5 separate regions of the Homo sapiens genome follow, and regions 1, 2, 3 and 4 are each linked to region 5. The links come from fine-mapping of genetic effects on gene expression. A gene starts in region 5. Each other region holds a variant in brackets. All regions are shown on one strand. Distances are from middle to middle.

Region 1 (5,101 bases), 25 kb before region 5:
TATTTGCAAACATAAACATCTGATAAGCATCTAGTGTCCAGAATATATAAATACTCCTTTTTTTTTTTTGAGACAGAATCTCAGTCTGTCACCCAGGCTGGAGTGCAGTGGCACCATCTCAGCTCACTGCAACCTCCACCTCCCGGGTTCAAGCGATTCTTGTGCCTCAGCCTCCTGAGTAGCTGGGACAACAGCCCACCACCACACCTGGCTAATTTTTGTATTTTTGGTAGAGGCTGGGTTTCATCATGTTAGCTAGGCTGGTCTCAAACTCCTGGCCTCAAATGATCTGCCCTCCTCGGCCCCCCAAAGTGCTGGGATTACAGGCATGAGCCACCACCATGCCCGGCCTACTCAGAATATATAAATAATCTTACAACTCAATAATAAAAAGACAAATAACCCAACTTAAAAATTGGTCATTTTTAACACTCTGAAGACATTTCTACAAAGAAGATATAGAAATGGTCAATAAGCACATGAAAAAATGCTCGATATATCATTAGCCATCAGGGTAATGCAAATCAAAATCACAATGAGATACCATTTCATATATACTAGAGTGCTTATAAGAAGACAGATAATAACAAGTGGTGACAAGGATGCAGAGAAACTAGAACCCTCATAGACAAGTAGTGGAAATTTAAAGTGGTACAGCTGCTTTGGAAAACAGTCCAGCAGTTCCTCAATGAATAAACACAGAGATATCTTATGATATATATGGTACATAAGAAAAATGAAAACATATATCAATATAAAAACCTGTACACAAATATAGCAATACTGTTCATAATAGCTGAAAAGTGTAAACAACCCCAATTTCCATCAACTGATGAATGACAAATAAAATGTGATATATTTGTATAATGGAATATTATTAAGCAATAAAAAAGAATGGAGTATTGATACATGCTACAATGAGGATAAACCTTGAAAACATCATGTTAAATGGAAGAAGGGTCAGGTGCAGTGGCTCACGCCTGTAATCCCAGCACTTTGGGAGGCTAAGGCAGGCGGATCACCTCATGTCAGGAATTCGAGACCAGCCTGGCCAACATGGCCAAACCCCATCTCTACTAAAAATACGAAAATTAGCCAGGCATGGTGGTGGGTGCCTGTAGTCTCAGCTACTCAGGAGGCTGAGGCAGGAGAATCCCTTGATCCCAGGAGGTGGAGGTTGCAGTGAGCCGAGATCACGCCACTGCACTCCAGCCTGGCGACAGAGTGAAACTCCGTCTTAATAATAAATAAATAAATAAATAATAAAATAAATGGAAGAAGCCAGTCACAAAAGATTATATATTATATGATTCCATTTATGTGAAATGTCCACAGAGAGGCAAATCCATAGGGACAGAAAGGAAATTAGTGGTTGCCTAGGGCTAGAGGTGTGCGAGTGAAATGGGGATGACTGCTAAAGAGTACAAAATTTCCTTCTGAGGTGATGAAAATGTTCCAAAATTGATTAATGGTTAATGGTTGACTCAATTAATTAATTGAGTTAATGGTTGTGTAACTCTGTCAATACAGTAGTCCCCCCATATCTGCAGGGGACACATTCCAAGACCCCTAGTGGATGCCTTAAACCACAGAGAGTTCCGAACCCTAGATAAACTATGTTTTTCCTATACATACACACCTATGATAAAGTTTAATTTCTACATTAGGCACAGTAAGAGGCTCACAACAATAACTAATAATAAAATAGAACAATTACAACACCACACTATAATAAAAGTTATACAAATGTGGTCTGTCTCTCTCTCTCAAAATATCTTATTGTATTGTACTCACCTTTTCAAGCCTCAAGTTGACCACAGGTAACTAAAACCATAGAAGGAGAAACTTCAGATACACGGGGACTACCGTATACTAAAAACCACTGAACTGTACATTTTAAGGATTGAATTGTATGAGATGTGGATTATATTGCAATAAAGCTGTTATCCAAAAAAAGCCAATTCTAGAGGTTATATACTCTGATTTCATTCATATAATATTTTTGAAACAACAAAATTTTAGAAAGGACAGATCAGTGACTACCAAAAGTTGGGGAGTAGAGGAAGAAAGGGAGGTGAATGTGGTTATAAAAGAGTCCTTAAGGGGATTGAACTATTCAGTATTTTGACTGTAGTGGTGAATACACAAACCTACACATGTGATAAATTGTGCAGAACTACATACACATATACACACACACAAACAAGTACAAGCAAAACCAGAAAAGTCTGAATAAGATCTGTGGTTTGTATCAATGTGAATATCTTGACTGTGATATTATGC[T/A]ATAGTTTTGCAACATGTTACCACTGCAGAAAATAGGGTGACTTGCACAGAGAATCTTTCTGTATTTTTTTTACAACTGCATGTGACTCTACATTTATCTTAGTAAGTCCATTAAAAAAACACACTAAGCCAGGCACGGTGGCTCACGCCTATAATCTTAGCACTTTGGAAGGCCGAGGCGGGTGGATCACCTGAGGTCAGGAGTTTGTGACCAGCCTGGCCAACCTGGTGAAACTCTGTCTCCAGTAAAAATACAAAAATTAGCCAGGCATGGTGGAGCATGCCTGTAATCCCAGCTACTCGGGAGGCTGAGGCAGGAGAAGAATCACTTGAACCCAGGAGGCGGAGGTTGCAGTGAACCAAGATCGCGCCACTGTGCTCCAGCCTGGGTGACAGAGCAAAACTCTGTCTCAAAAGGAAAAATAATAACAACAACAATACTAAAGTCACAAAAAGAAAAACCTATTGTGTTCTCAATTTCTCTTCTGATTAAACAAAAAAGACCCTCATCTGGCACAGGTGTACCATCCTCCAACAGCTGCTTTGCCCTTTTTAACAAGGAAGAGCAGACCTCAGGCTCAACACCCAGACAAGAGAAACCAGCTAGAATGTATAATATACTTGTATTTGATGGTATTTAGTTGCTTATTTTATCTAGATGTAGAATTAAGAACACAGATTCTGGAGTCAGCCAGTCAAGAGTTCCAATCCCATCTCTGCCACTTACTAGCTGTGTGCTCTTGGGCCAGTCACTTAACATCTCTGTACCTCAGTCACATCTAAAATGGGTACGACAAGAGCACCTACATCGTGGTAGTGTTGTAAGTTTTAAATCTATAAATATGGGTTTGTGTGTGTGTCTACACACAGATATGTTTAAGTGCCTGACACAAAGTAAAGTATTAGCTATCATTATCTTTACCATAACAAGGGTTGAGGAAAAATCACAATGTTTTAGAAAGGTTTACAAGCACAGGCCACGCTACCTCTCGAATGCGCCCCTCCATAGCCCTGGGCCCACCAGAGACTGAGGCCAGGGGTAGCTGCTGCACCCACCTGCGCATTTGGTGCGGCTGATGAGGGGTGGCCCAGGGCGGCCAGTGCCGCCGTCTCCGGGACGCGTGAGCAGCACGCTGATCTCATACTCTGTGTCGGGGTCGAGGTGCCACAGCTTGTAGGTCTGCAGGCTGACGGCGTGCACCTCAGCCCAGGGCCCGCGCGCCATGCGGTACTCAATCTCCTTGCGCACGATCGGCCCGTCGCCAATGATGGAGTTGGTGTTGAGCTGGATGATGAGGTAGGTGGGGCCAGCACGCAGCAGCTGTGGGGGCGCGATGGGAGTTGGGGGCTCTGCGAGGAGATGGGGGAGAGGCGAGGCGGACCGATGCTGCTGTGAGACCCCAGCACCCAACTCTGAGTTCCACCACACCCAAATCCCTCTCCGTCCTCCTAGGGCCTCTCACGCTGCTACCAAGCCCTCAACCAGACCCGCTCTCCTACCCCCACTAAATCCCGGGCCCTAAGGGGCACCTGGCTCCAAAGGCTGACCCCGCCCTCGCCCATCAGCCCACAACCCCTCTCTCAGGCCCCTCCTAATCCCCCACATCCTCGCCTCCTGGAGCGGACCGCAGGCCAGCTAGGATCAACACAGAAGTCACACAGCCAGAACCCCACCCCTCTTTAGGCTCTCACCTTGACCCTGTCCGTCCCCCTCGAAGCCAGCCCCGACCCCTAGATCAGATCTCATCCCGGCTGGGCCACTGCCATTTCCACAGGCCCATCTTCAGATAGCGCCCCAGCGACACCCTGCCGGCCCCACCCCCCACGGCCACGCCCCCGGGCAGAGCCCGCCCCCGTCGCCGGCCCCGCCCCTCGAGGGTGAGGTCCCGGCGCTCCCCGGCGTCCACCAGCTGACCCTTGACGATGAGCTCCGCGAAGTTAGAGACGCCCGCGCCGCGCGGGGCCTGGGACACACAGCGGTACAGGTCCTGCTCGGCGCGGCTCACGGCAGCCAGCGGGAAAGTGGCCAGGAAGCGCCGGTGGCTGATGTGCCGCACGCCCGCCGCCGGCACCAGCGCCCCGCTCTGCCGCTGCAGGGAAGAGAGTGAGGGGGTCAGGGGCGCCTCGGAGCGAGGGGTCCCGATCTCGCTCTGACCCGGGCCCCATTTAGCCGTCCCTACTACACCGCGCGGACATAGGTTCCTGGAGCCGCGCTCTAACCTGGGGGAATGGGGGACCCAAGAAAGCGCAGAGCAGAGCTAGGGGAGGGCCGGGACGCTGTGCGCAGTGCTGGAGTATGAAGCAGGGACTCAGCAATCTGGGGGGAGTCAGGGCCAGAAGCAGCCACCAACCCCCTCCCACCCCGCCCCCAGCCAAGATCACCGCTCCCGCTCACTTGCAAGAGGAAGCGTTCGGCCTCGGCCGCTCTGCCCGCGGCCATGCACTGGAACGACGCGTTCTGGCCCGCGTTGACCTCCACGTCGCCCAGGCGGGAGAAGTGTGGGGCCTTTGCTGCGGGGTTAGAGCTGCATCGTGAGCTGGGCCTGCACCCCCTGCAGGCAGGAGCCGCGGCCGCCCACACCCCTTACCCCTGCGCCCCCAGTGGGCTGGGACTCACCGCAGGGGTAGCTGAGAAGCAGGATGTCATCTAGGCCCATGTAGCCCCTGCGGTCTGGGGAGATGAGGGCCTCAAACAGCACCTGGGGGAGGCGGGAGGGCCCCTATCATACTGATATTCCTCCAGCCTTGCCTGGGGAGGTGCCCACTTTCAGCTCGGCCTCAGCCTCCTCTGCCTCAACTAGCAGAGGTCAGCCCAGCT
Region 2 (5,101 bases), 59 kb before region 5:
TCCACATAGCAATTAGCCTGGTCCCGACTTCCCTGGGTCAGTCCTGACTCCCCAACTCATCAGTGAATCCCAGGAGCAGAGCCCATGTTTCCTGCCTCTCTCTGTCTCTCAGCAAGACTCAGCGGTTAGGCATGAGCCCACACCACCCTGATCTCCCGCTCTCTCTAGCACCCACTGGAGGATTTAGTGCAGTCACACCTCTCCCTGTCTCCTCCCATGCCTATCACCACACATTTGCACATACAGTGCCTCCTCTACACATGCCCTTTCCTTCCCATCTCTGCGGTCTGAATCCTACCCATCCCTCGAGGTGCAGCATGATGCAGTAGAAACAAATTTGCAATTCAGAAAGACTTGCATTTAAGTCCTGACTCTGCCACTTTCTGGCTATTTAACCTGGACAAGTGACTTCCCCTCTCCAAGCCTCTGTTTCCTGATTTGTAAGCTGAAGGGTTAATAACAGCTACTAAGCAGGCAGGTGCGGTGGCTCACACCTGTAATCTCAGCACTTTGGGAGGCCAAGACGGGTGGATCACTTGAGGTCAGGAGTTCGAGACCAGCCTGGCCAACATAGTGAAACCCCGTCTCTACAAAAAATACAAAAATTAGCCAGGCATGATGGCAGGTGCCTGTAGTCCCAGCTACTAGGGAGGCTGAGGCAGGAGAATCACTTGAACCCGGGAGGCAGAGGGTTGCAGTGAGCCAGGATTGCACCACTGCACTCCAGCCTGGGCGACACAGTGAGACCCTGTTTCAAAAAAAAAAAAAAAAAAACAGCTACTAAGCAGGGTAAAATGGTATAAAATGGTGAAAATTTAATAAGAGAGATTACAAGGAGAATATGATTAATAAGTGCATAACACTGAGTTTAAAAACATAAATAAAATGGCCAAATACCTAGACAAATATAACTTATCAAAAATATAACTTTCTATTTTTAAAAAAATAGAAAGCCTGAATAGTTGTTTAGTCCTTTAAATATACCAAATTAGAACTTTAAAATCTGGCCAGACACGGTGGCTCACACCTGTAATCCCAGCACTTTGAGAGGCAAAGACAAGTAAATCGCTTGGGCCCAGGGGTTCAAGACCAACCTGGACAACATGACAAAACCCTGTCTCTACAAAAAATACAAAAAAAAAAAAAACAAAGTAGCAAGGCATGACAGTGGGCACCTGTCATCCCAGCTATTCAGGAGGCTGAGGTAGGAGGATCACTTGAGCCCAGGAGGTCGAGGTTGCAGTGAACCATGATCACACCACTATAGTCCAGCCTGGGCAACAGGGTGAAACCCTATCTCAAAAAGAAAAAAAAAAAAAAAAGAAAGGAAAGGAAACATCATAATCATCATGACCAAGTTGAATTTATCCCAGGAATTTAAGGTAATTTTTTAAAAATCTAAAAATGTCACTCATCCCATTAGCAGACAAAAGGGGAAAAAATAATTATCACAATAATTGCAGAAAAAAGTATTTGGTAAGTTTAATGCCCACTTAAAACCTCTCAGCAAACTAAAAACTAAAAGGAATTTGGTTAGCCTGATAAAAACATTTCTACCAAAACCCCAAAGCAATCTTCATTCTGTGTTTAAATGTTAGAAACATTCCTGTTAAAGTCAGGAAAAGAAGACAAGGATTCCAGCTACAACCAGTCTATTCAACACAGTACCGGAGGTCCCAGCCAAAAAAACATGGGGAAAAAGAATAAGAAGTGGGAAAGAAAAAACAACTATTTCTTCTGCAAAGGATATTCACAGATCCTTTAACTGCTCAGAAAGCCTGAAACATTCTACAGAGAAATGAGAATAAGAAAGCATATCGAGAAGTATGTATATAAGGCTAGGCACGGTGGCTCATGCCTGTAATCTCAGCACTTCGAGAGGCCAAGGTGGGTGGATCACCTGAGGTCAGGAGTGCGAGACTGGCCTGGTCAACATGGTGAAACCCCATCTCTACTAAAAAAAAATACAAAAATTAGCTGGGCATGGTGGCGCACGTCTGTAGTCCCAGCTACTTGGGAGGCTGAAGCAGGAGAATCACTTGAACCAGGGAGGCAGAGGTTGGAGTGAGCTGAGATTGCGCCACTGCACTCCAGCCTGGGTGACAGAGTGAGACTCCGTCTCACAAAAAAAAAAGAAGTATGAATGTAAGATCAATATGCAATCAAAAATAAACTGCATTTCTCTATATAAGAAATGGAAATGTAATATTTGAAAAGTGTACCATTTGCAATAGAAGTCAAAAATAAAGAACCTAGGGACATCTATCTAAAAAAAGATGTACAAGATTTTATGGAGAGAATTATTGAAAGACATTCAAGACCTAAATAAATGGGGCAATATAAATCACTTTCATGGGTGGAAAGACAATTTCATAAGATGGCGATTCTTCCAAATTGATCTATAAATTCAATACAAAACCATCCAACAAAGTTTTTCAAGAAACTTAAAGAGATGACTCTAAAATTTATAACAAAGAGAATTAGCCGAGCGTGATGGCTCATGCCTGTAATCCCAACACTTTGGGAGGCTGAGGCGGGCAGATCACTGGAGCCCAGGAGTTTGAGACCAGCCTGGAGTAACATAGTGAAACCCCGTCTCTACCAAAAAAAAAAAAATGCAAAGATTAGCCAGGCATGGTGGTGCGCCCCTGTAGTCCCAGCTCCTCGGGAGGCTGAGGTGGGAGATCGCTTGAGCCCGGAAGACGAAGGTTGCAGTGAGCCCAGATTGTGCCACTGCACTCCAGCCTGGGTGACAGAGCTAGATCCTATCTCATTAAGACAGAGAGAGAGAATGAAAACAAAAATAGCCAAGACATCCTTGATGAAGCACAAAGTTGGCACAGCTTCATGT[T/GGCACAGCTTCATGTT]TCAGATATCAAGACTTAAATAGCCTCGATAATTAGACCGTGTGGTTAGGAATCAACCAAACCAACCAATGAAAGAAACAGGGAACTGAAAAATGATCTACTTATCTGTAGAAATGGGGTGTGCGAGAAAGATGGCACTGCAAATCAGCAGGGAAAGCGTGAACTATAATAAATGATGCTGGGACAGTGGCTTATCACCATGGAAAAAATAAAATCCTTAACTTATACCACCACACACAAAAATCAATTCCAGATGGATAAAGATTTAAATATAAAATGTAAAATGTTATAAGTTCTAGAAAAAAAGCAAAAAATATTTTATAACTTTGGATAGGGAAAACTTCTTTAAAAAACACAAAAAGTAGAAATCACAAAGAAAAAGACTGATGAATTTAAATACACAAAAATAAAAATCTTCTGTTCATCCAAAGACACTATAAATAACCTAGGAAGATAAGCCACAAATTGGGAGGAGATATTTGCAATTCACAAGTGACAAATGATTATTATCCTAAATATATAAAGAACTCCTAAAAACCACTAAGAAAGCAACAGAAAACCCAATAGAAAATTAGGTGAAAGACATGAACAGGCATTTCATGGAAAAAGAGACCTGAATGGCCATTGATGACTTGAAAATACGTTCAACTTCATTAGTCATCAGTGAAATGCAAATTAAGACTATAGAGAATTACCATTTTATACAAACTAATGTGGCAGAAGTGAAAAAGGCTGGCAAATTTTGATCTTGATGTAGAGCAACAGAAAGTCTTACACACTGCTGCTAGGAAAGAAAACAGGCAGAGTTGCTTTGGAAAGCAACTTGGCACTCTTATTAAGCTGAAGATGCACGTACTCCATAATCCAGCAATTCTATTTCTAGAACCTTGTGTGCAGGTGCATCTAGACATCCACATCAGAATATTCACAGCAGTCTCATTTGTGATAACAAGAAAACTAAAAACCAATCGAATGCCCATGGATGGCAGAATGGAGAAGTCAATTGTGATACAGCCATACAATGGGAAACTACGCATCAGAGAAAGTAAATGAACTGCAGCAAAACATCCACATGGGTAAATTTAAATATGATGTGGAGTTAAGTAGTGTGTGATTTCATTTTTATAAAGGATGAAAATGAGCAAAACTATACAATGCGTTGTTTGGGGATATATGTACACATGGTAAAACTACCCCCAAAAGTCCGGGCGCAGTGGCTCACGCCTGTAATCCCAGCACTTTGGGAGGTCGAGGCAGGTGGATCACGAGGTCAGGAGATCGAGACCATCCTGGCTAACACGGTGAAATCCCGTCTCTATTAAAAATACAAAAAATTAGCCGGGCGCAGTGGCGGGCGCCTGTAGTCCCAGCTACTAGGGAGACTGAGGCAGAAGAATGGCATGAATGCGGGAGGCGGAGCTTGCAGTGAGCGGAGATTGCGCCACTGCACTCCAGCCTGGGTGACAGAGGGAGACTCCGTCTCAAAAAAAAAAAAAACAAAAAACTACCCCCGAAAAAGGTAGGAAAATTATAAACACAAATTTCAAGGGAGGCTGGGCACAGTGACTCACGCCAGTAATCCCAACACTTTGGGAGGCTGAGGCGGACAGATCAATTGAGGTCAGGAGTTCGAGACCAGCGTGGCTAACAGCGTGGCTAACATGGTGAAACCCTGTCTCTACTAAAAATACAAAAACTGGCCAGGTGCGGTGGCTCACGCCTGTAATCCCAAGACTCTGGGAGGCCAAGGTGGGTGGATCACCTAAGGTCAGGAGTTCAAGACCAGCCTGGCCAACATGGTGAAACCCCATCTACTAAAAATACAAAAATTATCTGGGTGTGGTGGCGCACACCTGTAATCCCAGCTACTCAGGAGGCTGAGCCAGGAGAATTGCTCCAACCCTGGAGGCAGAGGTTACAGTGAGCCAAGATCACACCACTGCACTCCAGCCTGGGCAACAGAGTGAGACTCCATCTCAAAAAAACAAAAAAATTAGCCGGGTATGGTGGCAGGTGCCTGTAATCCCAGCTACTTGGGAGGTTAAGGCAGGAAAATTGTTTGAACCTGGGAGGCAGAGGTTACAGTGAGCCGAGATCATGCCACTGCACTCCAGCCTGGGTGATAGAGTGAGACTCCATCTCACAAAAAAAAAAAAAAAACACAACAATTTCAAGGGAATATTTACATCTAAGAAAGAGGTAGGGGATATAGCCAGGGAGGTGTACCAAGATAATGTTCTAATTCACCAA
Region 3 (5,101 bases), 34 kb before region 5:
GCACCAGTAACACAGTTTTCAACACTGGCCCCATGTACAGCACAATACAAGATTCTGTTTCCACCCAGAAGGTTTCCTTTCTTCCCTGGAATGCAGGCAAGCAGCATGTCTCCAGTTATACATGGAGCCATCGAAGAGAGATTTCAGCACTCACTAGGAACAAAGCCTGCCTCCTGACTGGCTCCCTTCTCCCCACAAGCAGGGACCACCCAAATCCCATCCCATATGGACACTGAGGGGCTGGCTGCCACTGCTCCCTGTATCCTGGGTACTGTGGGCTGCAAGCCCATTCACCACACTTAGGTTTTCTCTCCCATTCCTGGCCCATAGAGATTTTTCTAATTTTTTTAATGTAGTTTTGTTTTAAGCCATCATTCTTCTATGTTTGCGCCAGAGGAGGCAGATCTGGGGTGTGCTCACTTGCCATCTTTCCCAGAGGTCCTCGCGTTATTCTTCAACTCTCTGGCTGTGGTCCTGGCTGCCCTGTGTGCACTGTCCTGGGAGTCTACAAGAGCCGAGGTGGCTGCCCTGTGTGCACTGTCCTGGGAGTCTACAAGAGCCGAGGTACCACTGCTTTATTTGCACTACTGGGAGTGGCTCTCTGTTCCCTGCAGCTCAGCTCACACCATCCCCACCCCCTGGAATGCTGCCCTGCATTCCTTTCCAGCCTCTAGGGCTTGGCAGAAGCATTCTGCTTCCTAGTCCTCCTGCAGCATTTACAGAAGGGCAGGAGAAGTTCCATGTAAACGGGGGACGTATGCTGGGTAAAGACCACGGCAAACAGGACAGTAGTGTCCCATCCAAAAGGGGCAGCTACTGCTCACCTCTAGATGACTGTTGCCAGGCAGGACTACAGGTTCAGAGTTGCCAGATCCTCCCATTTTTCAAGAGGAGCCAGAAATTCCAATTTTTATGTGAAATCTCCAGATTTTTAAATACTGGCAACCTACTCAAGCTTCTTCAAATCACCTTACAGGGCCCAAGATAGCAACTTTGGAGGATGAAACTCCCAACTTCAGACTTAGGCATCTCATTCTTTGACAACTGTGCCACCTCCCATCCACCCAGGTAGACTGAGAGCTCTTTGAAAAGAAGGTCCACTTTTCTTTTTTCTTCCTGCCTACCCTGATCATATCTGGACAGATCCAGGGAGCTCAAATAGTTTGTTGACTACAGACTGATATGTTGATTGAGGGGTGTGAATCCATGAGTTTCTCCACGTTTCTAAAAACCATCTGGCACCCAGACACACTCTCTTCAACTGTCAACACACGCTGACAAAACAGAACTTGGGGACCTCAAAGCCCCATCCCTCTAAATTACACAGGGCTACAGGTCACTCCGAGATCAGAGGTCAAAATGCACATTAAAACAATGAGGATAACATTTAACAGCTGTTGAATTAGGCCACCATGTGTTGACTTTAGTAAGGCTAAACAAGATGCAATAACCCTGAAATGTTCAACTTTTTCTCATGGGAGGAGCTTTGGACTGGGATCTGGTACACCCAAGTTCACATCCTATCTCCACCTCTCATTAGTTCTTTTTTTTCTTTGTTTGTTTGTGTTTGTTTTTTTGAGACACAGTCTCACTGTCACCCAGGCTGGAGTGCAGTGGTGCTATCATTGGCTCACTGCAGTCTCAATCCTCCCACCTCACCTTCCTGAGTAGCTGGGACCACAGGCATGTGCCACCATGCACCTGGTTAATTTGTTTTGTGTTTTTTGTAGAGACAGGGTTTCACCATGTTGCCCCAGTCTGGTCTCAATCTCCTGAGCTGAAGTGATCCACCTGCCTCAGCCTCCCAAAGTTCTGGGATTACAGGCATGAGCCACTGCACCTGGCCATAGTTCTGTGGCTTCAGGCAAGTTACTTAACCCCCTTTGAATGTTGATGTCAGGTTCCTCCACTAAAAAATGGAGATTATGGCTGGGTGCAGTAGCTCATGCCTGTAATCTCAGCATTTTGGGAAGCCAAGGCAGGATCGCTCAGGGGTTCGAGACCTTCATGGGCAACATAGTAGTGAGACCTCATCTCTACAAAAATATAAAAATTAGCCAGGCATGGTGGTGCGCGCCTGTAGTCCCAGCTACTTGGGAGGCTGAGGTGGGTGAATAGCTTCAGCCCGGGAGGTAGAGGAAGCGGTGAGCCAAGATCATGCCACTGCACTCCAGCCTGGGTGACAGAGTGAGGCTCTGTCAAAAAAAGAAACAAAAACAAACAAATGGAGATTATGATGCCTACTTTAAAGAGCAAATGTGAGAGTTACATGAGATAATATGAGTCAAATTGCCCAGCCTACAGTCATTACCAGCCTACAGTCATTACCAGTCTATAGTAATTAATAAACATGTGTGCATTAACATGAGATGCCAGTAGCAGTATAAATTGGCACAACCATTTTTTAAAGCAATATATTTAAAAGCCCTTTCTTCAACCACTCCTGACACTTTATCCTAAAGAAATAACTCAGGGTGGGGGGAGAAGGGAAGAACTACAAGCGCTAGGTTTCTCAATATAGTATTATTTATCATTATAGAAGTCTGGAGGCAAACAGTCCAGCTAAATGGGGACATTCAATGGACTTCTAGAGTCAGTAAACATAATTATAAACAACATAACACACGTAACAACACCAAGCAAATGAAGCAGCATACGAAATGCTTTCTACATCCCAATGCAAGGGTGTAAAAATGTCTACTGCAGGCATATGGGCAGAGATGTGAAGAAGTCAGAAAAATTAAAACAGCTGTTGGGCTAGGATGATGAGCTTCGGAGTGCTTATTTTAAAAAATGCCTTCGCCTGATGCTATATTATTGTTTTTACAGTAAATAATATAGTGCGAGGGGAGTTTCATGGGGATGGAGGAGATGACAACACAGCTGGCCAACAGCAAAACAACTGCCGGCCAACGCGCCTAAGCAGGGAGGGGCCATGATGTCAACAAAGAGAA[C/G]CGTGTAATTCAGAAGGGCAGGGGGAGGTGTTTGCACCCTGTCTGCCAGGCCCCTGCCCCAGCTTCCGTCCTGGCCAGCCTATGAAAACTGTTTCACAGTGCCCAGCACAAAGTGGGCATTCAGCCCATGATGGTGGCAGCAGCAGCTGCTGCTGCTGCTGTTAAAAACACTGGATTAGGCTGGATGCACTGGCTCCTGTCTGTAATCCCAGCACTTTGGGAGGCTGAAACAGGAGGATCCCTTGAAGCCAGGAGTTTAAGATCAGCCTGAGCAACAGAGTGAAACCCTGTCTCTACAAAAAAAAAAAAAAAAAAAAAAAAAAAAATATATATATATATATATATATATATATGTATATAAATTAGCTGGGCATGGTGGTGCAAGCCTGTAGCCCCAGCTGCTTAGGAGGCTGAAGCAAGAGGATCACTTGAGCCCAGGAGTTCAAGGCTGCACGCAGTGAGCTATGATCGTGCCACTGCACTCCAGCCCAGGTGACAGAGTGAGACCCTGTCTCTAAAAACAAAATAAAACAAAAAACTAAAACAAAACACTGGATGAGAAATCAAGAGATTCAAATTTTGATTCAAGCTCTGCCATGGACTCACTGTGTAGATTTGTACAAGTGGCTAAATCTCTAAATCTGAGTTTATTCATCTGTAAAATGGGAATAATCAACAGCCGTCATCATGAAACCTGGGTTCTTGACCCACTGTCTGATCACAGCCAAGTCTCTTCCCCTCTCTGGGTTTCAGCTTCCCCATCTGTACACTAAGGGGAGTGCAATAGAGATCCTCTGCGGAACCCTGTGCTATGATTCCTTTTATCCTAAGTGGCAAACCAGAACTGCCTTTGAAAGATTAAAAACACCATCATTTACTGGGTGCTTACTGTGTGTTAAGCGCTATACTTCACATGCATTTAATGCATTTCCCTGCAATTGTCTGCATTTAACCCAAAACACTGGAGGCTCCAAGGTTCAGGCTTTCCAACTCCTCTTTCTTCCATCTACATTTATTCCCTAAAAATCTAAGGACTGAATCGGGGATTCTCAACCTCAGCACTATGAACATTTTAGACTAGATAATTCTTTCTTATGTGGCTGTCTGTGCATTGTAGGATGTTTAGCAGCTTCCCTGGCCTCTATCCCTTTAGATGCCAGTAACACCCCATTGCCGCCACCCAGTTGTGACAACGGTTATGTCCTCAGTCACTGTCAAATGTCTCCTAGGAGACAAAATTGCCCCTAGTTGAGAACCATTAGCGTAAAAGATCTCATCCAACCTCAGGGCTTTAAATGCCATCTATACCATCTCCACACTGATGACTTTCAAATTTCTATCTGCAGCCCGAACCCCTTCCCTGAACTCCACACTCATGTATCCATCTGCTGATGAATATCTCCACTTGAATGTCTAATAGGGATCTCGAAGTCAACATTTCCAACACAGAACTCCTGATCTATGACACCCACGTCAAATCAGCTGCCACCACAGTCCGCTCCAGGAAATGACAGCTCCATCATTCCTGCTGCTCTAGCAAAACACCTTGGAGCCATCCTTGACTTCTATTTCCCTTTCTCTCATCCCATATTCAATCCATCAGCAAATGCAGTTAGCTCTGCCTTTAAAATAAACCCAGAATCTGACCACTTCTCCCCACCACCACCACTTCCACTCGGCTCCCAGCCATCACCACCTCTTAAGCAGATCATTGCAGTAGCCTCCTCCCTGGTCTCTGCGGCACCTTTGCCCTCCTGGAGAACATTCTCCACAAAAGGGCCAGAGTGATCCTTTTAAACAAAAGTAGATGATGCTCACTCCTGCTCTCTAAACTCTTCAGTGGCTCCCCAGCTCTCTCTGTGTACAACGGCTCTAAGTCCCACATCTGCAGCTCAACTTCAGCCTCTTCTCCTGCCATCTCCCACTCAGTCACTAACACAGTGACACTGGTCTCCTGGATGCCCCTTGCACGTGCCAAGCATTCTCCAGCCTCCAGGCCTTTGTGCTGGCTGCTCAGTCGGGCTGGTGCTTGCTTCCCCCAGCAAGCCCCCAGCTCTCTGCACGGCTCAGTCCCTCACCTCCTTCAGATCTCTGCTCAAATGTCACCTTCCCTTGAGACTTTTAAAAATAACAACCCTCCAGGCCCC
Region 4 (5,101 bases), 78 kb before region 5:
CTGCACCTCCTGTGAGAAGTGCCAGGTCCCCAGCACGTGCCATCCTGCTGAGCCACTGCAGGAACCCTGGAGTGGAGGGGACTTCTGAGGTCTCTGCCACCCAGTGATCGCTCTCAGGCTTCTCTGGAGAACCAGCCTTTTCCCATCTCAGCCATGTGATATGGTGAGGCTGGTCCTGCCCCAAGAGCCAGGCCTTGGGCATGTGACCAGAGCCAGGGGCAATCAGTGAGCTCCACCTCTCCAACCTGTGACTGGTCCAGGGATGGGAACATGAAAGTCTGATCTAGGACTGTTGGGGGGATGCTGGGAGCAGCAAGCGCCTTTTTCCTAAGTCACCAGACAATAGAGATGATGGGAGCCCAGCACTGCTGGCGGCCAGGTGCAGGTCTGAGAATGAAGCCAAAAATAGGAGAGCAGAACCAAGGCAGACAGAAACCACCTGTTGGCATCATCATCTGAGCCCCTGGATCCAGCTACAACTGAAGCTGCACGATCCTCAGACTTTTCAGTTATAAAAGCTGGATTTTCATCACTCACAACCAAAAGAATCCCAATGAATACAAACACCCCAAGGGACATATTAACTACTTCTCTTCTCTGGGTAACAAAACTGAGGCTCAGAGAGGTAAAGGGAACTGTTCAAGGATACTCACAGCTCTTAACTAGGTAAGCCAGGATTTGAACCTGGGTTTATCTGACTTCAAAGCCTGGGCTCTTAACTGCTTTGATGCACCCCATCTTCCGCTGTCCCAAAGTCCTTCCTGGTAGCTCAGCTCTGTCCCTCCAGCTGTGGCCTCAGGCTGGTCCCTGCTTCTTGGCCCTCAATGACTCCTGCAGTATTAAGGATGCCCCAACACACACACAGACACACACACACACACCTATACACACGCACTCATCCCCCACCTGGAACTCTTCCCGCAGCTGGGAGGAATTACTCTGAGGATCAATGCGGATCATCTCCTTGTAGGTGGCCTTGAACTCACTGACAGGGATGGTGGTCTCCCCACACAGGCAGGCCTCCAGGATTGCATCATGAATGAAGATGTACTGCTCCTGGAACAGGAGATGAGAATGAGGCCGAGGAGGGGCCTAGAAGCTGGAGATCTGTGGTGATGGGGCTTAAGCAAGCTCAAGGTTGAAGCAGGGTGTCCTGAGGTGGAGGCCAACCATGTTACTACAGGCTGGACCAAGCCTACCTGAAACAACCTCCATGGACATGCCCCTTTATCTCCTATTTCATCCCTACCCCCTATAACAACTCTGTGAGTGCTCTGAGAGGTGGGGGACAGCTCACGGTCACACATCCACTGAGGATGCAATCCCAGGTATGTCAGCTACAGGACCGGTTGTCTGACCCCACCCAACAGAACACAGGGGAGCAGTTCAGGATGACCCTATGCAGTTGGCGGCCCAAGGTCAGGGATGATCTGAGGGAAGGCAAGAGCCTCAGGACACCCTTTGGGCATGCTCTGCCGGCTCCAGGATCCTTCACGAGAAACTCCAGTCCTAGAAGTAATAATGGTGGGGACAGGGCCAGGTCCCCGCACCTCAGTCTGGATCATGTTGACACGCCGGGAGCAGAGAGTCTTCACACAGTTGTAAATGTCCACGACGCCCTCACACTCTGCCATGTCCAGCATCACATCCAGGACGATATAGCAACCTGTGCGGCCGGTGCCCGCGCTGGAGAGAGAGCAGCCCCAGACCAGGTCAGAGCTTTGGGGAGGAAGCCCGGGACTAAGGAGAAGAAGAGAGGAGGGCACTGGCCATGTCTACACCATACAGGGGACACGGACACAGAGATGACTGCCCCTCCCCGAGTAAGGAGCCAGGACGCAGGCTGCTGGATGGAAGAGCTCTAGTGAAATGTGCTAGAGGACAGAGATGGGATGGGCCTCAGGGAAGGAGAGGAGAGAGGGTGGGGAGAATGCAAAGGTGACACTGGCTCAACCTAGCAACTTAAGATTAGGAGAGAACAGGAATGATGATCCTCCGAGCTAATTCAAGAATGTTCTTTCCTCCTGAAAACCACCAAATCTCCTACACATCCTTGAAAAGCCCACACACTCATACCCATTCACATACCCACTGGAGCATCCCTGACCCTTCCAGGATGATGTCATTCTTTTGAGTTCCCAAAGCAACGTGGGCAGGTTTTTATTAAAACACTCTTCGTGGCCAGGCACGGTGGCTCAGGCCTGTAATCCCAGCACTCTGGGAGGCCGAAGTGGGTGGATCACTTGAGGTCAGGAGTTCGAGACCAGCCTGGCCAACATAGTGAAACCCTGTCTCTACCAAAAAATACAAAAAATAGCCGGGTGTGGTGGCACGTGCCTGTAATTCCAGCTACTCAGGAGGCTGAGGCAGAAGAATCGCTTGAACCCGGGAGATGGAGGTTGCAGTGAACCAAGACCACACCACTGCACTCCAGCCTGGATGACAGAACAAGATCCTGTCTCAAAAAAAAAAAATTAATTAATTCAATAAAACACTCTTCCTGCTACATGGTCATTGTTTATGTGGCTGTCTCCCTAACTTGACTGGGGGCACATCAAGATCATTGTCCTCACGCAAGGTTGTGCAGAGCTGAGGGGGAAGGAGAGTGGACAAAGATGACAGCAAGATTTCAGGTTT[G/A]AAAACAGTGGCATCCACGTGCTAGCGAGGACATACAGCAACTGAATACCCCAAATACCCCTGGTGGGGCTTAACTTAGCACAACCCCCTTGTAAAACTGCTCAGCAATATCTCCTAAAGCTGAACGTTCACACAGATAACAGTTCTACTCCTACGTACATACCACACAGAAAGAAATACATTTCTTGGCCAAAAGACATACGATCGAATGTCCTTAGCAGCACTACTCATAATAGCTTAAGACTGGAAACAACCCAAATGCCTATCATGGCAGAATGGACAAACACACTGTCATTTATTCACTTGATGGACGATGATCCACTGTGGACGAGCCTCACAAACCTAAGGCTCAGGGAAAGAAGACAAACAGCAAAGAGCACATGCTGTATGATTCCATTTATGACAAGTCCAAAAACATGTGCAACTAACTGCGCTTTAGAAGTCAGAATAGTGATTTCTCTGGGACTGGGGATGGGGGAATTCAGGCCAGAAACGGGTTCAAGGGGGCTTCTGGGAACTGTTCATGTTCTGCTCCTTTCTTAACTTTAAAAAAAAATTTTTTTTTAGAGGCAGAGTCTCGCTCTGTTGCCCAGGCTGGAGTACAGTGGTGCAATTACAGTTTACTGTAACCTGGAACTCCCATACTCAAACAAACTTCCCACCTCAGCCTCACAGGTAGCTGGGACTACAGGCTTGTGCCACCACAACCCACTAATTTTTTTATTTTTGTAGCAATGAGGTCTCACTATGTTGCCCAGGCTGGTCTCGAACTTTGGGCCTCAAATGATCCTCCCACCTTGGCTTCCCAAAGTGCTGAGATTACAGGCATGAGCCCCTGTGCCCAGCCAATGTTCTGTTTCTTAATCTCAGTAGAGCTGGTTTTTTCACAAGTGTGCTCAGTTTATGAAAATTCATATTTTTAAACATATTTCTGCACTTTGCTTTAAGTGTATTATATATCAATAAAGTTTTGTTTTTAAAAGATGGCATCTTAAAGAGGCCTAAAGAAATCAAAGAGAAGCTGGTTTAGGTGGCAGGGCAGGGAGGACGACTCTACCATGCGGCATTTGGGGAGCTGATAAGAACACAGTAGAGGAACCGCAATGAGACACAGAGGCCATGGACAAAGCCACAAAGGTTGGGGGTTACGCTCTCCAGGGGGAGACAGAGGGCAGGCCAGGACAGCGTACTGGGTCCCCATTTAAGAAGCAAGAGAAAGATGTGGAGCCAGGGAGAAAGCAGAGAGAGGAGGGGCAGCTGGGGTCACGGGAGCCAGTCAGGGTCTGCAGAAGGTGTGAAGGCCAAGGGGTAGGCAAGGCCCACTGGGTTTGGTGGAGAGAAGTGAAGTCCTTCCCACCCCCAGGCCAGGCCTAGCACGCGGCAGGTGTGCAACAAAAAGCTGCTTACTGAAAGCAGGCAGAACTCAATCGTGCCTGGCGCCTCAGCGGCCCGGAGGCCCCTCCCTATCTCCAGTGCCTCCTCAGCACCTGGGTCAAGGGGCTTCACAGGTCTTGGGGGGCACATGAAGATGCCAACCTCAGAGCCAAAGGCCAAAGGGGACAGGGCCTTTGGGGGTCGTTCCCTCCTGCACTCCATCTCTAAGCAGGAGAACCCAGGCCTGGTCCCCACTACAGATCCTGAACCAACCTGACCCCAAGCCCAAATTCCCAGGGAGAAGGGCCCCTTTTCTCCTTGGGATTCCCGGTGCCCCCACCTGCAGTGGATGACAATGGGCCCGGCATCAGGTGGGGTGGAGGCCTTCACGCGCCGGATGAAAGCCAGCAGCCCCGTGGCATGGTAGGGGACGCCATGCTCTGGCCACGCTGTGAAGTGGAACTGGCGGACCTCGTGCCGGGCAGAGTAGCCTCTCTGGGGAGACAATGGGAATAATAATCAGAGTCCCTGGCAGCATCTGTCACCATTAGACACCTGCTGTGTGCCAGGCACTGCAGTAAGCATCTCATTGTATAATCTCAACTAATCCCAATGATCAATTTACTGATGAAGTAGGTATTAATGTCCCATTGTACAAACAAGAAAACTAAGGCTCAAAGAGGAGAAACCACTTTCCCAAGGTTAGAGAAACCAACAACATGCAGGATTTGGACAATGGTCTGCCTGATGCCTAAACCTGGGCTGTGAAATACTCACCTCTGCCACCAGGTTGTTGTGTAAACATATATCATTTTGACTCCCAGGGTCTTAATTTAAAGGAAAAAAAACTATCTTTCCTCTGAGGACTTTACAGAGCAGATCAAATGGGATCGTGGACAGGACTCGCTGGCCAGCCACTGACTATGTGGCCTCTCCTGCCTGGCATAAGCCCTCTGAGCCTCACTTTCTGTATCTGGGCTAATCACACGGAGCTTTCCAGGACTGAAACAATATTTATAACAGGCTCAGCACAGAGTAGGAGCCAGCACCTGGCAGATACTGTCACCCCCTTCATTGTCTCAGCTTCCTC
Region 5 (5,101 bases):
ACTCACAGACAGAGCCTTACTTTACAAGGTACTTGGTATCTACCAAAAGTGCCATACACCATTATCATGATGGCTATGAGGCAGAAGAGGAAACTGAGGCATCAAGAATGGGAGTAACCTGCTCTAGGCCTCACTCCCAAACTTCAGTTCCTGACAGTCCTCCTGCTGGCAGGGCTTGGGGCTTGTGAGTGTTCTTGAAATCAAAGCGATGGTGGTAGGAGCGGGGATGGGGCGCATACAGAACCCCGCGGGTTTGATTTCACGGTGGGAGAGGGAGGCAAAGTTGCCGCAGGACATGGGGGAGAAGTTGGGGAGGATGGGGTGGGAGGTCGCCTTGGGCGTCCTTTCGGGAACGGGGAGGTCAAAGCTAAAGCTGTGCCCTATGGCCCCGGAGCTGCAGGGCGAGGCCCAAGCGCTGGCCAGTGGCCGGCGCGAACGCTGGAGCCACAGGAGTTCCGGCCCGAGACACCGGAGCCAGCAGCAGGGCCGCGAACGCGATGCCGGGGAGGTCAGTTGTCTGCGGCTGGCGACCGTGAGGAAGCGGCTCCGCTCCAGCACGTGTCTCGGCTCGGATCCCGCCCCGGGCGTCTCCCGGCTACCCGGAGCCCGCGGAGCAGCCCCGCCGGTGGCGAGGGCGGGGGAGGTCACCCGGAGCAGGGCCCCGAAACTCCGCGGGAAGGGGCCGCGGTCTAGGATCCCAGGCCTCAGGGTGGGATGTGGAACACGCGCACGCACACACATCCGACACACCGTCCACACTCCGACGAGCACACGGACACACAAACACAGGCTCCGTATACATACATTCAGCTGCGCGCACACACACACGCGCACGCACACCAAAGACACCAGACTCCGAAACACACCCGGAGAACGCGACCACACAGCAGACAAGCGCGGAGCCACACGCTCACACTCACGCTCACACTCAAGCACACACCTGGCGGTCCCGGCCGGCCGGGAGGCCGCACAAAGTTGCAGGCTCCACCAAGGGAGTGTCCCGGGAGGCCCGGGCGTCCCCCGCGCGTCCTGCGCGCCAAGGGAGGGGGCGCCGTCCCCCGGCGGCGAGCCAGGCCCTGCCCGCGCCCGGACGTCGCAGCCCAGCCCGGGGACAGCCCCCGCCCGGCCGCCCGGGGCGCAGCCGCGGCCCGGCCACCGCAGGAGCGCCCGCCGGTCCGGCCCTCCCCTGCCCGCCCGCCGGCCCCTCGCTGGGGCCCGCTGGCCCGGGCGCCCCGCAGCCCCGGCGCCGCCTCGGATCAGCCGCCCGCCAGCGCCGCGCGGAACTTGCGAAACAACAAACAGTCCGACATGCCCGAGGCGGCGGCCGCGGGGCCCGGTCCTCCCCTGAGCCTCGGGCCCTGCCCGACCCGGGCAGCCCAGGGGGCGCCGCCGCGACAACTTGTTCCGGCCCAGCGCGCCACACACGCGCACACGCACACGCGCGCACACACGTCCTGCCACCGCCCCCTCGGGCGGCCCCGGGACCAGGGCACACTCGCAGCCGCGGCCCAGGCGCGCTCCACACTCGCAACATTCCTGGACGCGCAGCCAGCACACACGGACACATTCGCACACACTCACATCCGTTCCAGACTCGCTCCCACACACGCATTCCCGGCACACTTGGCATTCACTCGGACCCACGCGGCCCCCGGCAGCACACACCACATACCCTAGACACTCCCCACACGTACACAGCGCACGGACACACACGTTCCGGACCCGTTCCCACGCCTTCACACATGTACACGGATCTCAAAAGCACACACGCCACACACGCGTTCCCGGATCCACACTCAGGCGGGATCCAGAGAGCACCCTTGGCCACAGGCATAACACAAACACACAACCCACTCGCAGACACAAAACAAACAGCACTCCCGGCCAGGCATACAAAATGCAAACAAATGCAACACATTAGCAGATACAACTCCCGCAACACAACCAAACTCAGATGCACACACAACCCACTTGGCCACACAAACACTACACACTGGCAGACCCACAAGACACTCAGCGCACACCCAATGCCTCGATGCACACAACATTCACCCCCAACATACTCGCCGACACACATCACCTTTTCTTGCGCACAGAACTCACGGACACACAACATTCGCAGTCACGCAACACCCCGGGCACACAATCGCCCATCCTACGCTCAGACACACACAGGGAGCACGCTCGTAACGCCCGGTCACTCAACACTCACACTTTCTTCCGAGCTACGCCACGGGCCCCGAGGCTCGGCGGGGCAGGCTCGGTCCGGCCGCCGCGCGCTTACCTGCCGGAGTCTCGGTCTCCGGCGCGCAGAGCTGGAAGGTGAGTGCCAGCACGAGCGCCTGGGCACGGGCCATGGTTGGAGCGTCGCCGCCCGTCCCGGGGCCCGGCGCGGGGGACGCCGCCCCCGGAGCCCGAGCCCAGCCCGAGGCGAGCCGGAGCCCGAGCCGGAGCGGAGCGGCGCGGCGCGGAGCGGGACTGGCGCCGAGTCCAGAGCGCGAGCCGGAGCAAGCGGGGCGCTGACGTCAGGCCCGGCCGCGGGTTCGGCGGTCTCGCGGCGCTCCCTGCTGGCCACGGCGGGTGCTGCAGCGGGTCCGGCCGCCCGCTAGCCCTGGCGCGCCCCTCCCCCGCTCCCGCATCCTCCCCGCCATGAGGCCCCGCGGCTGGGTCTGGACGCCCACGGACGTCTCCACGGACCGGGCACCAACACTGCCAGGCGAGCACGCTCATGGCCCACGCCTAGCTCCCGTACAGCGCTCTCAGGGACGGTGACCCAGGGACACCCGGCCTCTGTCCCATCCGATGCCTGAATCCCTTGTACCTTGGCGCCTTCAAATGCGTGTTCTACATACCTCCAGGAACAGGGCGCTCATCACCTGGCCAAGAGCGGTTGTTGGGGCTTTGGAAACGCCGGCTTTTAGAAAGTTTTTCATTTCATGACGTGCAAGTCTACCTCCCTCACTAGCCCTCACTGGTCCTACTCTACCTTCTGGCTACACAGGTTAAATGTATTTGGGCCTCTACCCAGAACGAGCCCTCGCACTATGATCTGCAAACTCGTTGCTCATTACTATGTAAGACCAGGTACCTTCTATGTGTTTAACCCACATGGACTCATTTAATCATCATATATTAGGTATGCAATAATTATACTGCATAAATACTGTTATGCAACAGTATTTGACAGCACCGAGATTTGAATCAAAGTTGTTTGGTTTGAATTGAATAGGGGCTGAGACCTTCCTCCCATCTGGACACCTATTCATTCAACAAATATTTATTGGGGTCTATTCATTTATTCAACAATTACTATAGGCCAGGGTAGAGATATAAAACAGACAAAAATTCCCTACTCTCATGGACCTTACATTCCAGTGGGAAGACAAGAACAGTAAACAACCAAAAAAACAAAAACAAAAAAGCAAACCCTCTGGTGTACGTCCTTTATCACTGTCTCATACACCAGGAAATTTGGGGGTGGTGGGGGGACAGGGAAGGGAAGGGGAATTGTTGCAATTTCAAATAGAGTGCGGGCTATATGATGAGTTCATTATCTGTCTCCACCTCTAGAAATGAGCTCCCTTGGGAAAAGACTCATCTTGTATTTCCGTGCCCAGTATATGGCATGTTTTTATTATTTTATTTTATTTTATTTTATTTCAAGATGGAGTTTCACTCTTGTTGCCCAGGCTGGAGTGCAATGGCGCAGTCTTGGCTCATTGCAACCTCTGCCTCCCAGGCTCCAACAATTCTCCTGGCTCAGCCTCCCAAGTAACTGGGATTACAGGTGCCCACCACCACGCCCGGCTAATTTTCGTATTTTTAGTAGAGACAGGGTTTCACCATGTTGGCCAGGCTGGTCTGGAACTCCTGACCTCAGGTGATCCACCTGCCTCAGTCTCCCAATGTGCAGGGATTACAGGCGTGAGCCACCGCGCCCGGCCTCTGGCACGTAATTGATGCTCAATAAATACTGACTGGATGGAATGAATGAAAGGGAAATGGTCCTAGCCTTCATGAATCTTACATTCTATTAGGAGAGCCCAACAGCAAACATGTACATAAATATATCATTACCATCTAAGATATGCAAGCTAAAGGAAACGAGGGAGTATAATGATAAAGAACATAGGGAAGGGGCATCTCCTTTAGATAAGTGGTCCAAGAGGGCTTTGCTATAGAAGTGACATGGTGACATTTGAACTGAGACCTGAAGTATGAGAAGGAGCCAACCTCATGCAAATCAGTGGAGAGGAACATTGCAGTCAGAGGGGACAGCCTGTGCAAAGGCAGGAGCTGGTGGGTACAAGCAGCTGCAAGGAAGCCGGGCAGCTGGCATGGAGTGAGTCAGGGGCAGAAGGGAGCCAGGTGCAGCTAGACAAGTCAGCAGGGTCTGTAGGTCAGGCAAGAAACTATGAGCAAGGAAGGGGCTTGAGGTTCAACCCTAAGAGTAATTAATGGGAGGCCACTGAAGTGGAGTAATTAAGCAGAGGAGTAATAAGGAGTAATAAGTTCTGATCTCTGGGTTTTTTTTTTTTTGTTTTTTTTTTTTTACAGCTCCAGCTATAAAGACTGCTGAAGTAGGGAAAGCCATGGGCAGATGGGTCTGACCACTGGGCAGTGACACTGAACAAAGCGTAGGAGTTCAAGGTATATGTAGGCCCTCCCTGTGCCCTGCCCCTCCTAGCTGGCTTCATGCTGAGATGGACACACCTTGAAGCTGCCCTGGGGCTGGAGGAGGTATCGCTGGGTTGAGAGTTCCTGGGCTCTTGGTCTCCTCTCTTGTGAGAGCTGATGAGCTCCACACTGAGTTAGGAAAGGGACCAAAAGACACAGCAGGCAAGAATTAGACACAGATAATTAAATAGGGAGAGGGAGGCAGAAGCAAGAAGAAACCAAGGGGAAACCTTAGGGAAGAAACTAAGATACAGAGACGCTGGAGCAGAGAGGAGCCAGAGAGGCCCACCCAGAAAAGGAAACTCAAGGAGAGAAAACCAGTGAACAGAAGAAACAACCAAGGGTGCTGTTTGCAGAGGGCTCTTGAGAGAGCCTCAAAATAGGAGTTTTACCAGTGATCCCATTTTACGGGTGTGGAAACTGA

Which allele goes with the higher level. Positions count from the first base shown, and alleles are read on the strand shown. Sizes are in standard deviations (SD) of each study's normalised expression. Not every link is listed here.
With allele GGCACAGCTTCATGTT in place of T in region 2, the expression in atrial appendage of the gene that starts at base 2,480 in region 5 is higher (moderate effect, 0.45 SD a copy in GTEx).
For the expression in spinal cord of the gene that starts at base 2,480 in region 5, C is the high allele of the variant in region 3 and G is the other (moderate effect, 0.75 SD a copy in GTEx).
In carriers of allele A in region 4, the expression in skeletal muscle of the gene that starts at base 2,480 in region 5 tends to be lower than with G alone (small effect, 0.26 SD a copy in GTEx).

The links. PIP is the estimated chance that this variant, and not a neighbour inherited with it, causes the effect.
Region 1: its variant is the best candidate, but not a certain one, in a credible set for the expression of PTPRU in blood mononuclear cells (TOPMed, PIP 0.73).
Region 2: its variant is the best candidate, but not a certain one, in a credible set for the expression of PTPRU in atrial appendage (GTEx, PIP 0.90).
Region 3: its variant is the best candidate, but not a certain one, in a credible set for the expression of PTPRU in spinal cord (GTEx, PIP 0.72).
Region 4: its variant is the best candidate, but not a certain one, in a credible set for the expression of PTPRU in skeletal muscle (GTEx, PIP 0.50).

Annotation. Positions count from the first base shown.
Region 1 is chr1:29,259,142-29,264,242 of GRCh38, reverse strand. PTPRU (protein tyrosine phosphatase receptor type U) reads right to left here. Exons shown (of 30, transcript NM_133178.4): 4 at 4,901-4,982; 5 at 4,679-4,794; 6 at 4,199-4,373; 7 at 3,340-3,633. Among named protein-coding and RNA genes, the nearest start is that of PTPRU, 25 kb to the right of the region's middle. The variant T/A (reference allele first, on the strand shown) is at 2,284.
Region 2 is chr1:29,292,726-29,297,826 of GRCh38, reverse strand. All of the region lies in intron 15 of PTPRU (protein tyrosine phosphatase receptor type U), which reads right to left. Among named protein-coding and RNA genes, the nearest start is that of LINC01756, 55 kb to the left of the region's middle. The variant T/GGCACAGCTTCATGTT (reference allele first, on the strand shown) is at 2,852.
Region 3 is chr1:29,267,426-29,272,526 of GRCh38, reverse strand. All of the region lies in intron 7 of PTPRU (protein tyrosine phosphatase receptor type U), which reads right to left. Among named protein-coding and RNA genes, the nearest start is that of PTPRU, 33 kb to the right of the region's middle. The variant C/G (reference allele first, on the strand shown) is at 2,955.
Region 4 is chr1:29,311,957-29,317,057 of GRCh38, reverse strand. PTPRU (protein tyrosine phosphatase receptor type U) reads right to left here. Exons shown (of 30, transcript NM_133178.4): 22 at 4,352-4,506; 23 at 1,551-1,686; 24 at 907-1,056. Among named protein-coding and RNA genes, the nearest start is that of LINC01756, 36 kb to the left of the region's middle. RefSeq lists a silencer at 3,627-3,921 and enhancers at 3,654-4,229, 4,230-4,807. The variant G/A (reference allele first, on the strand shown) is at 2,638.
Region 5 is chr1:29,233,901-29,239,001 of GRCh38, reverse strand. It overlaps PTPRU (protein tyrosine phosphatase receptor type U), which reads right to left and starts at 2,480. Exons shown (of 30, transcript NM_133178.4): 1 at 2,285-2,480. The coding sequence starts at 2,357. RefSeq lists a silencer at 2,358-2,677.